Linked DNA regions of Homo sapiens. The protein of the gene in region 2 purifies or fractionates together with the protein of the main gene of each other region. This does not show direct contact. Each region holds a gene or a part of one and is shown on either strand. Other genes may lie near its edges.

Region 1 (3,500 bases), on a different chromosome or scaffold from region 2:
TCCAATGTCTTCACTGTGTTCAGTTTACACCAACTATAATAAAACTCAAGCCACTTTTTTTGTTGATATGCAAAACATTCTGGTAAGTTCATTTGAAGTTGAATTATTTCATTAACATGTAAACTCACATGTACAATTTTACTTTTTGTCATATATTTAAATATTTTCTTATCTGCAGAGCTATCTCAGGATATGAAATCATAACATGCTAGCAACTAGTAATTTAACATTAAAACACTTCCCTAAATTATTCCATGGAAAAGTGCATTTACAATATAAACATGTCATATATGAAGCTACAAATCATAATCTCACTGGAGTGGATATAAAATTTCAAATTCAGTCCAAATGAGTCAAAGAAAAAAGTGCTAACAGAGCAAATCTGAAACAAGTTCATGGGGATTGGGTAATGAGTCATCGAAACGAAATCTTTTGGAAACCATGCTGCTATCCTCTGGGATATTCTCTTTGTCTTCTCTATCACCACAGGTTCCATTACAGGAGGATTTAGAAGTCTTGTCTTCAGAGGACCTTACAGAATGATCCTGAGTTTGAGAGGAACTGGAAGTTTCTTCAGGGTGAAACAAGTTTTCAAAGTCCCACTGCTGTAGCCAAGAATGAGAAAGGCATATCTCTGCTGTTGGTCTTTTCCTTTGAAAGAAAGCACCAAGGGAAAATTGAGAACTAAAAATCAAGTTGAAAATGTCTTCAGTTTGATAGATTATAGACATATTTTTTACTTCTTGTGAAAATAAAACATACTCATAGTATAAAATCCAAACAGTACAGAAGAGAATAATAATGATAATAGCTGCTAACATTTACTGAATGCTTAGTTATATGCCAGGGACTATTCTATACGCTTCAAATACATTATTTAACAATCATAACAAACTCATGAAATGGGTACTATTATTACCCTCATTTAACAGATATGCAAAGTAGGGTACCAGGAGGCTTGAAATTTACCCCAAATCTCCTAACTTGTAAATGGTAGTTAAGTGGAACTTTGACTCTATCGTCTGTGCTTTTAAGCATTACACCATATTATCTCTCATGAAGATAAAAAGTAAAATTGTTTTCTCATTCCCCAATCCCACTTCCAGATATTTTTTCTACATATATGTGCATATACATACACAAACATATACACACACATACACATACACAGCTTCACATACTCCATGTTTCTGCAATTTGCTTTATTACTCAATAATGCATCTCAAGCATTTTTCCACATCAGTACAGAGTTAACATATTTATTAACAGCTGTATTATTTAGTACTCTTCCATATGGATACACCATAATTTATTTAACCAGATGCCCATTGAAGCTTCTAGCATTTTGCTATTATAAATATGCTTCAATGAATATTGAGAAAATGTTTTTTGGGATCTTCTCTAATTATGTTCATAGGATGAGTTACTAGTAAAGCTAGTGGGTCTTTATATTTTGAAAGACGGTGCTTAACTAACCTCCAAATCACTTTTGGTTTTTTTTTGGTTTTTTTTTTTGCAATGTAGTCTCACTCTGTCACCCAGGCTGGAGTGCAGTGGTGCGATCTCAGCTCACCACAACCTCTGCTTTCTGGGTTCAAGCAATTCTCCTGCCTCAGCCTCCTGAGTAGCTGGAACTATAGGTGCATGCCACCATGCCCGGCTAACTTTTGTATTTTTAGTAGAGATGGTGTTTCACTATATTGGCCAGGCTAGTCTCGAACTCCTGACCTCATGATCTGGCCGCCTTGGCCTCCCAAAGTGCTGGGAATACAGGCGTGAGCCACCTCGCTCAGCTGACTCGCTTCTTTTGTAAGGTTGTCAAAGGGCATCCAATCCTTCAAGATTTCACAATCAGTAAATGATACTTGTTATGTATGTAAAATTATTTTATTTTATTTATTTTTTTGAGACGGAGTCTTGCTCTGTCATCTAGGCTAGAGTGCAGTGGCGCGATCTCTGCTTACTGGAAGCTCTGCCTCCCGGATTCACGCCATTCTGCCTCAGCCTCCCAAGTAGCTGGGACTACAGATGCCTGCCACCATGCCTGGCTAATTTTTTTGTATTTTTAGTAGAGATGGGGTTTCACCGTGTTAGCCAGGAGGGTCTCAATCTCCTGACCTCGTGATCCATCTGCCTCAGCCTCCCAAAGTGCTGGGATTACAGGCGTGAGCCACCGCGCCCGGCCGTAAAATCATTAAACTGTAAATCATTTACAATAAAGTCTTATCATAACCAGCCATGTGTATTGTAAATTTCTATGACTAATTATTTTAGGTAATTTCAGGGATTAGTAGTGGTTTGTGAGAGAAGTAACTCAAATCTTTTCTTTACTTCAAAATCCCCTGTTGTATATTTTATATCTGAAGTTATGTATTTGTTAATGATTGCTCATACCACCTATTTTACCTAGAACTTGTACATATTTCTAATAATTTTATACTATTTTAGAATATACTTTCTTAATAGGTATATATTATTTATTCTGTAATAGTATTTAAACAAATTAAATTTGTAATAGTATTTAAACAAATTATTACTTACTCTGGATTTTTTACTAAAAGGCTCTGAATAAAGTCTGTGGCCAGCTGTGAAACTGATGAAAAAGTTTCTTCCGAATAATCTACATTAACTTGAGAAATATTGAGGTATGTTTCTTGATTATCTTCTCCCACAAATGGTGATGTGTGAGTTAACAACATATATGCTATTATACCAATATTCCTGAAAAACAAGGGAGGGGAACTTAAAATGTATGTTAATTTTTAAACATTTATACAAAGTACAATCGACATTCAACATACTCCTCTCCTCAAAACTGGTACGGTTAAACTACAGATTTACATTGCTTTTCAAAGTTCCTATATTATTAAAACTAAAATAATGATCTCAAAGTGTGCCTCACAGAAAGAGAACACAAGGGAATGCACGTGTTATATAAATACAATGTATTCAATATATATTATTGCTACCGTCTATCCTTCACACAGATACCTGCCGTGGAGTACACAAAGCTGCTGCAGCATTTCCTAAGTGGTTTCCAATGGCAAAGTAATGACTTGTGAGATGTAAAGAGAGGTTCTGCACAAATAGAGGCTGCAAGTTTGGCGAAGCACAAAGCTGGGCAGGCAAATTTTTTCACTGCAAACCTTTTAAAATCTGTAAATGTGTTAATGGCAAGTCTGGTGCCCAGGAGCCAGAAAAAGACAATATAGTACATGTTTCACCAACTTATTTAGCCATACCATCTTTTTTCCTGGGCAAACCCATGAGCAGTTCCACAGAACACAGAACAGGTCTAAACCTTCCACTTGGTCTGAGGAGTCAGTCCCCTTTGTGGTCTCAACTGAAGCTCCAGTATCAGTTCTGGTTCTATTCCCTATGGTATTCTCTCTTGGCTAGCTACAAAAACTCATAATTTCCCAGAGATGTACTCTCATAAAAGTACATTTTTGGGTGGGCCTGACCTAATTATTCTGCTTAACAAATACCTTCTTCTAGCT
Region 2 (3,500 bases):
CATAAACATGTTCATGATTGAGTAAAATCAACATTAGAAAAGAGGGAAATTTGGCTGGGCGCGGTGGCTTACGCCTGTAATCCCAGCACTTTGGGAGGCCAAGGCAGGCAGATCACCTGAGGTTGGGAGTTCGAGGCCATCCTGACCAACATGGAGAAACCCCATCTCTACTAAAAAAAATACAAAGTTAGCTGGGTGTGGTGGTGCATGTCTGTAATCCCAGCTACTCGGGAGGTTGAGGCAGGAGAATCACTTGAACCTGGGAGGGGGAGGTTGCAGTGAGCCAAGATTGCAGCATTGCACTCCAGCCTGGACGACAAGAGTGAAACTCTGTGTCAAAAAAAAAGGGAAATTTATATGGAATAGGAAGCTAAGAAGGATGTGCAGCAGCCCTATAAGAATAACACAGATATTTTAACCTTAAAAATATGTTATTAAGAACTTATTGATAGTTCAGTTTCATATGGTACAGCTTTCTGATATTACTTACAAGCTCAGGAAAACACTTCCAGAACATATCCTTTTGTGAAATAATGTAATTTCCTAGGGTGTTTACAGACTTTAAGAAACTAAGATTGAACATAAAACATTCTAGTGTAAAATTATCACTTTAAGGAGTCTAATGAAAATCTAGTTAGTCTTATGAAATAATTTTTAAAACTACAGATAAATATTTTTACCAACATAGAACCCTGCTGTCTTTGAAATAACATTTAATTGAATGAAATAGATATCTTCTTTGGCTCTATTTTACTGCAAACATTAAAATGATAAATACAAACTATTCTTAAACTGACTCTTAGAAGAAATGCAAAACTCCTTCAAAGGGAGAAGAACAATAATCAGAATTAAAATTATTTTATGAATTGAATATAAGTGATCTTGTTAAAAACAAAATCAAAAAACAAAACTTTCAGTTCTGCTAATACACAAAATGAACATGAATGTATAAATAATTTTTAACAGTGAGAATATTTTTGTTATTTACTAAAAACATATCTATAATAAAATGTAACTATGTTATATGATATACAATTTTAATGGCCAAATTTGTAACATATTAACTCTTCCATAAATTAAAGTATTTTAAATATGCCTCTCAGTCTCACTGGAAAATCACTTCATTTTCTACAGAATATTATCATGAAACTTGCAATATGTGCATTATCTAGTTCAAAAGATCAAAACTTTTATGCCTATGTAAGCCAGGCAGGGAAAATAAACGTGAAAGAAGAGTCTTACAAATAATAAGAGGACATGAAGGGAACTGTAGATTGCCTGCCTCTGCTAAAGGTGTCAAAAAACAAAAACAAAAGCAAAAAACCTTAAAATACTCTATGTGCCAAACAGTGTTTAAGAGCCATATGCAGCCTCCCAAACTGCCAGATTGCAGCTCTAGAAAAGCAGTAGCCAAGATAGAGCTCAACCAAAAGTGTGATCTTTGCCAACAGGAGAGGCCAATAAATTCTAACACTTGCAGAGTGAATAGAATAGAATGCATGCTTCATTCAGTTAGTAATCTTTGCTTATAAAGTTTGAGGTATAACCCATGAAGTCTGTTGGTTATTAACATCTGCCATATGGCCTTAAAACAAGATGCCTCAATCCTAAGTGGGAAAGGGAGAATCTCAATTTAGACTCTCCAATGATCACAGGCACACAAAGAACCAGTCTGTATAAGGCTCACCCTCAACCAAAGGCCTCTTTATTCTGAACAGGTCAGACCATGCTGGAGGCCTAACTGTGATCTACTGTGGTCTGGGTGCACATCCAGTGATCTTTTAAGATATCTGGATTGGCCTATATGAGCACATTAATTTACTAGGAACCTGGTGAAAAGCAGTACATATCAAAATACATTTGAAATTTATTTTATCTATCACCAAGCGGAAGGAAATAGAAAAAGTGAGCAGAGAAGACAGAGAAAAAGAGCAAGAGACCAACAAGCAAGACATATTTCCCCAGACCACCTGGGCCTTATTGAGAGAAAGGCCAGAAGCTGCAGATCATTACCTCAAAGACCTGAGGTACACCAGGAGGAGGTTCCCACTGCCTTGAGAGACAAGCCCCTGGGTGTTCATGAGTTGACTGGAGAATGAGATACTACTCACTTCCTTCCCTACTGAAGATGCCAGAGAAATTCAAAAAAGGGGGCCATTGTTCTGGCAATTAATTTAGAAATCTATACTGTAATTTTTTTCCTTATGTAGATCTGTTTGGGATTCTTTATATATGTATATTAAATAATAACTTGTTAAGTAATATTTTCCACACAACATCCTCAAATTCAGTTATATATATCTTATACATATTAGGTGCAAAGACTGAAACAGATATTTGTAATGCATTTTTAAAACAGGTGTCCATATTTCATAGTAAGTTTTTTTGTTGTTGTTGTTTGTTTGTTTCTTTGAGACGGAGTCTTGCTGTCTCCCAGACTGGAGTGCAGTGGGCTATCTCGGCTCACTGCAAGCTCCGCCTCCCGGGTTCACGCCATTCTCCTGCCTCAGCCTCCCAAGTAGCTGGGACTACAGGCGCCCGCCACCACGCCTGGCTAATTTTTTGTATTTTTAGTAGAGACGGGGTTTCACCATGTTAGCCAGGATGGTCTCGATCTCCTGACCTAGTGATCCGCCCGCGTCAGCCTCCCAAAGTGCTGGGATTACAGGCATGAGCCACTGCGCCCAGCCCATAGTAAGTTTTACTAATACTGAATTCCTCATATTTCTAAAATACTGCAACATACTGGTTTCTTATTCTTTGCCAAAAAAAGCTTAACTCTCTGAGAATTTATTTTTTATTTTGACCCTTTTGATGTAAATGAATCACCCATCCATTACTAATGATTATTAAGTGAAATATATGAATCCATGTTGTATAATATAGTACGTGATATCTATAACATTAGAACAATAAAAACTAACATCTACTGAAAATTTACTATGTGACAGACACTACATTAAGGGCTTTACATGGATTATTTCACCTAATCTTTCCTGAAATGTATGAGATAAACACTCTTAAAATCTCCACTTTCAGTTGAATTACACACGACTTAAAGAAGTAACTTGCAAAAGACAATTAAACTAGTAAGTGTTAGGATGGTGGCTCAAACCCCAGTTCATATCCCGCTATTACCTTTCTCTCTCTTTCTCTTTTACAACATATTTTTAATAGTATATACAAACACAGAGAAAGTAATTTCAGTTTAGCAGTTAAGAAGAATACTAGAAGCTTCAATCCTGGATTTTTAAAAAATATAACTTATATTCAAGGAAACTATACAATTATATATTTTATTTAATAATTATTTCAATTCTCTTTTTATAAGATCTGTAAGCACGTTCACCATTTTTAAAAGATGACATTCTATCATGAACACTTCATCTATTCAAACTTAAAAATCATGAACATGCCACCTTAACAGGACTCTCAACTCTGAAAGAACTTTTGTTAGGAGGATAAACCAAAAAAAAAAAAAAAAATCCTAAAATTTGTGA
Region 3 (3,500 bases), on a different chromosome or scaffold from region 2:
TCTCACATTTATTACACTGTGGAGCTCGGATTTGAATCCCGCTGCAAACTTAGTTGTCACTGTGACCTTTGAACAAAACAAAATTGAATATGCTGCAAAACATCCACAGAGCCTCAAAGCGAGCTCGGAACCTGAAACGGCCCGCCTGAGACCTCCTTGAAACGGTGATTCTGATTCATCAGGGCTGTGGCTGAAGGACCTGAGAGTCTGCATTTCTAACGGGCTCCCACGTGATGCTGCTGCTGGTCCACTGACCACACTGTTAGCGGTGAGAACCTAAGAGTCTGTAATTGCCTCCCTGCTCATTACCCCCATGCCCACGTGAGCTGCCTCGTTCTTCCAGGATAAGGCATGGCTAAGATGCTGCACGATTGGTTTTGAGAAGGGGCTATACTAATACATTCACTTCCCCTTCCTCCCCATTTTTCTCAGCGCTGAAGAGTGAAGCATCAGAGAGTACCTCAAAGAAGATTCATGTGAGGCTTTGAGGAGGAGGGGATGGATGGGTCATATCGCTTTACTAGGAGCTAAGGAAACGGGACAGCTTGGGTGCGACTTCTGATTTCAGGAGATGCGCTTTCCCTAGAGACCAGCAGAGGGCGCAAAAGGGGCAGGGACCGAGGGGGAGGAGCCCGCGGAGCCGCGGCCGGAGAGTCGAGCGGGGCGCGGGGAGCTGCAAGCGTCCCTGAGCTGAGCTCCGCTGGGAAGTTCCTATCGCTTGCGCAGTAGAGTGCATTTAGACATTTCAATGACAACTAAATTTGTAGCTGGATTCAAATCCTAGCTCCACAGTTTAGTAGGTGTGTGAGCTTGGGCGAGTGCTGAACCTCTCTAAGCATCAGTTTACTGCCTATAAAATCACAGCAATAAGTTTCTACCTCCCACCCCCGCCGCCCCTACCCCGGCAGCAACAGCCTGCTTCCGGCTTCCAGGGATCCTCCAGTGCCCAAACCAGAATATCCAGTTACCCATGCTTAATACTCCAACAGTTCTTGCTTGCTGAAGTAGGCAGCCATCATTTACGCAACTACACCTTACCAGAAACGCCTTCCCTTTAGAACACTGAAGGGGAAAGTTAGAGAGGGAAAGGAAATTTCTCAAGGCACTGGGGTGATTTTGTGTTTCTTTAGCATGAGTTACCGGAAAGCTTCCTGTGTTTTCTTTACTATCTTTAGGTGGTGGTTCCCAGCATCAAAAAACAGCAAAAACAGCAGCAAGCAAAGGCGCTGATACTCTGAAAAGTTATGTTGAAAACACATGGTTTAGGTACAGAATGGCTTCCCCGTTGTTTGCACATTATAACTCTTTAGCACACAATTTTAAAGCATCTGATTGAAAGAAATAATTTTTAGTGATTATTAAAAACGAACAACTAGCACAACATTTAAAATCGTCGGGAAAAGGTGGCTCGCCCAGAAAGTGAACATCCCTACCTGTCTCCAGGTTCGGACAGCGCCAACATTCTCAATTAGAAAATTAACATCTGAGGCTCCGACATCTTCCCTGGATGCTAAATCCTGTGTATTGATGGGCAAAGTCAATTGCCAGGAAAGCTGGGCAACTATAAGGTCAGGGGGCTGGAGCAGATGAGAGTAGGGAAGTCCAGTATAGCATCCCTGAAAGTAATGACACAGACAATCTGCTAAGCGCTGCAAAAATCATTTGGAGTGTGATGTAAATTGGAAACAGCTGGGGTGGGGGTGGTGACCGGCAACTAGGAACCCTATTAACCTGATCAGTTAGATACGAAATGGGAATGTGAAGAGAGAGTATCAAACACTTGAGAACTGTTCTGAGAGGGATGTGTAGTCTGTGCTGGGCTAGCAAAGGAATCAAGAGAAAGCTTCCCAGGCAGATAAAATCCAATGCACCCTGCAGCTGCTGGAGACACCCCCTGATGCAAGGTAAGCCCTGAAGAGGTTGAGAAGGAAAGGTGGGGGGCACTCAGGCCAGGATGAGGATGCCCTGAGAGGAAGATGATTTCACTGGTGTTGCCTGAGGGACTGTAAGCAGGGACAGGTGAGGCTGGGGAGCGCACCCCTGCTGGAAGCACAGGTCCCCACCCTGTGCCCAGTGTCCTGGGACCCGAAGGAGGTTTACTGCATGTGGAATCTGCCTGGGCAGGCTGCCCAGGGTGGCTATGCTCCATTCTGAGTCAGGGCAGGGAGTCAGCTAGTTGATTTGGCTCCAACTTGCTAGTGGTGGTTACTTTCGAGATACATGAGACCATGGCAAAAATGCTGGGCTGGGAGAGGATAAATATCGGTTCTAGTCCTCCTTCAGCCACAGTCTGGGTATCCTAGACAACTCTAACTTTCATTGTCCTCAGTTTCTGCATATGTATAACGGTGAGTTTGAAATGGAAGCATTTTTAAATCCTTGTTAACTCTGAAGTTATCTAAGGAAACTTGCTGAGTATCATCATGACAGCAATCATAGACCAGGGCCAATCCTCCCTGAAGCAGAACATTCCTTCTTCATTCTGGCAAATTTGCAAGGCTGTTACACCGGATCTTGAAGATACATAGTGGAAAATGATGTTATTAATGTACCGATGAAAAAAATGGAACCACATATATCCTAGCTTTAAATAGCAACTTTTTCCCCCCTCAAGAAATTACCCTCAGAGGAGCTTATGTCTGCGGCTAGATATTTTGAGATTTGACTTTTTTTTCCCCCTCTCCTTGTATTTCTGCTTTCCTAGGCTCACCTCCACCTCTGTAGCCAGCTCCCTAGTCATTGGTCCAGGGCAGGTATATGTCAGAACCCTACCAGGAATAGCCTGCAAGTTCTTCTGGCTTTGATTTTCCAAACAGGGCCTTAGGTTGGGGACACAAAGTCTTTGCCAAGTTGGGGGAAGAGGGGTGGGGTGTGCTGATGGGTAAAGCAGAGAGACATGCTTCTAGAAACAGGAAGACAGGAAGGGAAAAGGGGTCTGTCAGCACCAGGAAGACAGGACTCTGGCAGGACCCCAGTGAGTTAGCTATGTGGTCTGGAAGCAGTGAGGACTTGCTAGGCAAGACAGGCACAAGAGTGCCTTCAGTGGTAACCCGAGTGGACCAGATGGGGGAGCAGGAGATACCTGCACCCGAGCCCCTGGGATCTTGGCAATGCATAAGAGATCTGAAATTGTGACACAGTGACACAACCTGGGGTGATTTCTATGGTTGCTGGCCAGATGAGATGAAGGCTCTAAACTAATATTAATATCTAGAAAATAGAGGAGAGGCAGTATTTCTTGCACATCTGTGCATGCTAGAGATTCACACTCACTACCCTTTTGGTTCACAGGTTGGGAAATAAAAGAAAAGGTAGTCTTGAAGCTATCTGAACCCAGTTATATCTCTGACCAAGATGAGGAGGAATCTCAGACCCCAGAAACTCAGGACTAAAAGTGACTTCTGATTTTGCCTTTATCATGGTCTTCTGAGTTCAAATCCAGACAGTTTCCCTGACTGTAAAATGGGATGGTTATGAAGAGTAAATGAGATGGGACATAT

The links. The genes of interacting proteins can lie anywhere in the genome.
Region 1: the proteins of CHSY3 (region 2) and STK17B purify together in Homo sapiens (affinity purification with mass spectrometry; one large-scale study listed by BioGRID and IntAct). This does not show direct contact.
Region 3: the proteins of CHSY3 (region 2) and TLR5 purify together in Homo sapiens (affinity purification with mass spectrometry; one large-scale study listed by BioGRID and IntAct). This does not show direct contact.

Annotation. Positions count from the first base shown.
Region 1 is NC_000002.12:196,137,079-196,140,578, forward strand, and holds part of STK17B (serine/threonine-protein kinase 17B), read right to left. Parts: intron 2,722-3,500; coding exon 2,542-2,721; intron 652-2,541; coding exon 369-651; 3' UTR 1-368. UniProt on the Homo sapiens protein: Phosphorylates myosin light chains. Acts as a positive regulator of apoptosis.
Region 2 is NC_000005.10:129,910,965-129,914,464, reverse strand, and holds part of CHSY3 (chondroitin sulfate synthase 3), read right to left. Parts: intron 1-3,500. UniProt on the Homo sapiens protein: Has both beta-1,3-glucuronic acid and beta-1,4-N-acetylgalactosamine transferase activity. Transfers glucuronic acid (GlcUA) from UDP-GlcUA and N-acetylgalactosamine (GalNAc) from UDP-GalNAc to the non-reducing end of the elongating chondroitin polymer.
Region 3 is NC_000001.11:223,133,249-223,136,748, forward strand, and holds part of TLR5 (toll-like receptor 5 precursor), read right to left. Parts: intron 1,617-3,500; 5' UTR 1,434-1,616; intron 1,235-1,433; exon of another isoform or gene 1-1,234. UniProt on the Homo sapiens protein: Pattern recognition receptor (PRR) located on the cell surface that participates in the activation of innate immunity and inflammatory response.